2 separate regions of the Homo sapiens genome follow, and region 1 is linked to region 2. A link means that fine-mapping ties the variant in region 2 to the expression of a gene that starts in the linked region. Tissue or cell type: whole blood. Region 2 holds a variant in brackets; the other region holds the start of a gene. All regions are shown on one strand. Distances are from middle to middle.

What was found. PIP is the estimated chance that this variant, and not a neighbour inherited with it, causes the effect.
Region 1: GNB4 starts here. The variant in region 2 is fine-mapped to the expression of GNB4 in whole blood (TOPMed, PIP above 0.99).

What each region holds. Positions count from the first base shown.
Region 1 is chr3:179,449,862-179,452,664 of GRCh38, forward strand. GNB4 (G protein subunit beta 4) reads right to left here and starts at 1,609. Exons shown (of 10, transcript NM_021629.4): 1 at 1,485-1,609. It also overlaps the pseudogene RPL29P34. RefSeq lists silencers at 1,180-1,589, 1,630-1,779.
Region 2 is chr3:179,378,340-179,380,989 of GRCh38, forward strand. MFN1 (mitofusin 1) reads left to right here. Exons shown (of 18, transcript NM_033540.3): 13 at 2-104; 14 at 246-475. Among named protein-coding and RNA genes, the nearest start is that of MFN1, 32 kb to the left of the region's middle. The variant A/T (reference allele first, on the strand shown) is at 1,007.

The sequences.
Region 1 (2,803 bases), 72 kb after region 2:
TTCTTAATTTTCAAATTGCCCCAGAGTCTATTTTTAAAGTGTAAAAGTATGTGCTGACATACTTACATGCCAATTGTTTAAAAGAAACAATTCTACAGGTTAACAAAGGCCAAAGACTCGGAATAACTTCCTAAATAATGTTTATGGGCCCACAAAGAGTTGAACCAACCTAAAATATCACAAGCTGTATCAATCAGTTTTATAAATGTATATACAGAGGGTTGACAACGTTCAATAAGATGATATTTTAAAAGTTTCTATTTCAGTTTCAAATTCATCTACAAACCAAAATGCAACATGGAAAATCTTAAAATGTCTTTAAGCCACATACTGAAATATACAGTAAATTTTCAGAGCCTAGGATCAGTAGTAAACCAAAAGCCCCAAACTGAAGAGTATTAAAATGAACAATGGCAGAGACTCGAAGCACACAATTTTGAATGCACCTAATCAGCCGTCCTCCTCTCCGACTAGAAATAACTTCCCTCCCATCTTAAATTAAGTAGCGTGTGTTCTGTCTCTGTCCTAGAAGATGTACTTAATGGTCATAAACTCTGTTTGCAACACTGAGACGGACTCATAATAAAAGTTCTAATCAACAATTAAATTTTGAACGTTTTAAGAAAACTTCCCGCTAAGCCACACGCCAAGCTACTTTGTCGGTGGCTGAGAGGGAGAAAGATGCATCCTTATCCTTTATGGAAAGAGAAAGGGAAGGAGTGGGAGAAAAGGGAACACAAGGAGACGAAAAATAACAAAGTATTGCTTGTATAAACAAATGAAAGCCTGGTTTCAAACTTTTGAAAATTCAACGTTCCCTTAGCGAATAGCAATACATATCAAAGTATATGGCAATCATCTGTGTTCTGAAGCAGAAAAAGGTGGAGAGAAAAGCAAAACACTTTTTATTGTACTGAACTCACAAGTATTCAAAATTCATCAATCCCCTCCCATCCCCAAACTCTGGACATTATATCATTTCCAAAATAAATCTGAAACAAAACCATTGGACTAATTTTGGACTCAGCGTAGAACTTTTATGAGTCTTCCAAGCACTCTCCACCCAACAGCCCTGCTGGGCAGTCCCGAATACCCGTTATTTTGGGGGCACGCACGGGCTCGTGCTCTGAGTTCCTGGAAGGAGGCCTCGGGGAGTGACGAGAAACCAGGGGGGTCTGCAGGACTTGGACCGCCGACCGTTCCTCGCTCCCCGGGGCGAGCGGTCTGGACCGCCCGGGAAGTGCCTGCGCCGGCGGTCGTGGGGCCAGTTCCCGCGTGGCAGCTGGGCGCGACACAGGCGCGCCCTCCTCGTCCCTCCCGGGCAGCGTCGGCCGCCCGAGCCCGGGGAGACCCGCCCCGCCCCGCGCCGTCACCCGGGCCCCGTTCCGCAGGGGTGGCTCGCGGCGCCCCACGTCCCTGCGAGAAGCCCGGGATCGCTTCGCGGGGCGCACCGACGAGCCGCCGCTCGCGAGCTCGCCGCCTACCTGGAGGGAGCTCAGGCCCGCGTCGACCGCGCGCTGCCGGTGTCCGCTGGGCGCTCAGCAGCCCCTGGAGCGCGGAGCCGGCGTGGAGAGCGCAGCTCACAGCCGAGACCAGAGCCGCCGGCCACACCCAGTCCCGCACCTCCCAGCAGCCAACTCCGCGGCGCGCCGGAGCCGGGGCGGGGACGTGGCTGGAGGCGCGAGGCGCGAGGCACGAGGCGCGCGGGCCCGGCGGGGACGTGCCGGGGACGCGCAGACCCTCGGAGCGCGCGCAGCCCGGGCGGGGGGCGAAGGGAGCGGGCGCCGCGCGCAGCTTCTGCTTCCTATTTTCTCTCTCGTTTCCTGCCAGAAGGAGAAGAAAAACATTCATTCCCGGGCAGTTTCGTTTTCTTGTTGGTGTGGCGCCGGGGCACGCTGCTAAGTAGCGCCCGTCTAAGTGGCGTGGCCAGTTTCCTTTCCGGCGCTGACAGGCGCCAGTTTGCTTGTTAGCAGGATCGAAGGGCAGAGCTAGAAGACCCCAAAGGCCCCATTTAGGTTTCCCATTCTGGAATTCTAAATGTCAGAAAGTAAACTGAAGCCCAGAGTTGCACAACCTTGCGTTGCAGTCCCCGCTCTTCCATCACTAGTTGTAGGACCGTGTACCGTCTCGGGCCTAAGTTTCGTCATCGCCAAAATAAAGATACTGATACCTGCCTCATAAAGGTGCTAAGCATATTAAATGAAGTGATGTTTGCACGAAGCCTGCCTCCAAATAAATGGCCAATACTTGGAAGTTATTGTTCCTATTGTCATTGATAAAACTGGAAGGCCTTCCAGATATCCCTGCCAAGTCGCTCTTCTCTGCATGAGTTAAACACCACATGCATCTCAATCGAGTTTTTTTTTTTTTCACATTTATCTGGGTGTTTTATGTTTAAAATGTCATAAAATAAATGCATCTATCCAATTTGCTTCCTCTGAAGTCAGTACCGCCTGGGAGCATTTTTCCTCTCCCCACCCCCATTTTTCTTCTGAGTTAATTCCAGTTTGACAGACTGTTGCTATAGCATTCCTTCTCTGACGTCAAACAATTTAAAGAAACAGCCCTGGGTAGCGAAAACTGCAGAGGAGTTCTTTGTGGAGTTTCTGTGCCGGAGAAATGTTCGAACAATATCATCAGATAACTTTAACAACCCCTCAGCCTTCCAATCCTCCTTCTGTAGCTGCTTCCCACTATCACCTGGAATAAATCTATTAGTCCCTTGAAAGAGGTGATGCCATGATAAACACACCCTGTTTGTGACTGTGGGGAAAATGTGACCGTTTTGTATAAAAGCCAGGCC
Region 2 (2,650 bases):
GGAATTAAATAAGCACATAGAGGATGGTATGGGAAGAAATTTGGCTGATCGATGCACCGATGAAGTAAACGCCTTAGTGCTTCAGACCCAGCAAGAAATTATTGGTAATATTTATGTCTACAAGGTCATGTCTGGTTTGTTTTTTCATTCATGACTGGTGAAGAGCTTATTTTCCTTTAGGCATTCCATTGAAGGTAAAACATTTACCATTCTTATCTTAAGTGTTGTAATTTTGTTCTTTCTAGAAAATTTGAAGCCATTACTTCCAGCTGGTATACAGGATAAACTACATACACTGATCCCTTGCAAGAAATTTGATCTCAGTTATAATCTAAATTACCACAAGTTATGTTCAGATTTTCAAGAGGATATTGTATTTCGTTTTTCCCTGGGCTGGTCTTCCCTTGTACATCGATTTTTGGGCCCTAGAAATGCTCAAAGGGTGCTCCTAGGATTATCAGAGCCTATCTTTCAGGTATGTATCTTTGAATCTACCAATTAAGACTCTCCTTTATTATTTTGTTTATGTGGTTTTTCTATAATAAAACTAGCTTTACAAAATCTGCACATTTAAAAGCTAGTATCTATCTCTTAGAGCCATTTCTGAGGTAGATATTTAGTTTGAGCATCTCCAATCTGAAAATCCTTAAAGGTCCAAAATGAAAAACTTTTTGAGTACGGTGACACCACAGGTGGAAAATTCCACACCAGACCTCAATGAGGTCATAGTAAAAACGCAGGCACACAACACACAGTTTATTCAGTGTCCTCAAGGGAAAAAAGACTCAGCCTCTTCTAGCTGCAATATATCTTTTCCACGTATGCCCAAATTCCCCCACACAAGCACACCTATGAAGGGTACTAAAATGGCACATGTGCAGGTCCAGTGCACCAACAGCATTTTCCCCATGATGCCCCACAAGGGGCCAAGACCTTTGTGCATTACCCAGTATGGGCTTCTTTACTTCCTGTCTTTTCTCTGGTGTAAAGATACTGTTTAAAAAAA[A/T]TTTTTTTTTGAGTGGGGATGCGTTTGAGACAGAGACCTGCGCTGTGGCTCAGGCTGGAGTGCAGTGGTGCAATCTTGGCTCACTGCAACCTCCACCTCCCGGGTTCATGCGATTCTCCTGCCTCAGCCTCCTGAGCAGCTGGGATTATACGCACCCACCACCACACCCAGCTAATTTTTGTATTTTTAGTAGACATGGGGTTTCACCGTGTTGGCCAGACTGGTCTCGAACTCCTGACCTCAAGTGATCCACCTGCCTCAGCCTCCCAAAGTGTTGGGATTACAGGCGTGAGCCACAGCACCCAGGCTGTTTAAAATGTTTAAAAGGCCTACAGATACCCTTGTGGGTGACATTGATAAGAAAAAGAAGAGGCATTTATTTTTATTTATAACACATAAATTTAAGCTGTTGGAAAAACTGGACAATAATGTAAGTGAGAAACTTCTTACAGAAGAATGATGTTGGAATGAACACCATATATGACCTAAAAGAAAGAACAACTTTCCTAAAGTTGTTCTTTAGGACTAAACTGTTGAAGTTCCATGCTAAAAATGATGACAGAAGTTAATGAAAAAAACAAAAACACTGCAGAAAGTTAAAAACGAAGATCTTGATCATGCATTGAAAGAGTGGATCCATCAGCATTGCAGTGAACACGTGCCACTTAAGGACATGCTGATCATGAAATAAACATCTATTAAAATGAACTGAAAATCGAAGGGAACTGTGAGTATTCAATAGGCTGGTTAGAGAAATTTAAGGTAAGATAGCATTAACTTTTCTAAAGGTTTGTGGTGTTAAAGCATCTTGATCACAAAACAGCAGAGAAATTCATTGATGAATTTGCCAAGATTGTCTCTGATGAAAATCTGACTCCAGAACAAGTCTATAATGCTGATGAAACATCACTGTTTTGCCATTATTGACCCAGAAAGACACTGACTACAGCTGAGGAGACAGCCCCTACAAGAATAAAGGATGCAAAGAACAGAATAACTGTGCTGGGATGTGCTAATGCAGCAGGCATAAATGTGAACTTACTGTGATAGGCAAAAGCTTGCATCCTCACTGTTTTCAAGGAATGCATTTTTTTTACTAGTCCATTATTGTACTAACAAAAAGGCATGGATCCCTAGGGACATCTTTTCTGATTGGTTTCACAAACATTTTATACCAGCTTGTGTGCACTTGCAGGGAAGCTAGGCCGGATGATGACTGCAAGATTTTGTTATTCCTTGACAACTATTCTGCTCATCGTCTAGCTGAAATTCTTATTAAAAAAAGTGTTTCATTATTTCAACCTTGTGACCAGGGTATTCTACGATCAATGAAGAGTAAATACAAAAACCTTTTTTGGGCAGCATGCTAGCAGCAGTGAACTGAGGCCTGGGTGTGGAAGGTTTTCAGAAGGAGTTTAGAATGAAAGATGCCATAGATGCTTTTGCCAGCACAAGGAGTTTAGGATGAAGGATGCCATATATGCCAGCACTTGGAAGACAGTGACTCAGTTGTGTATGCCTGCAGCCTCTGCCTGTCACTACATTTATTGATGATGAGGAGCAAATTGGTGACTTTGAAGTATGTCAAGTGAGCTCCTTATGCAAAAAATAATATCTTCAGAGTCCATCCGTAAGCTGGAAGAA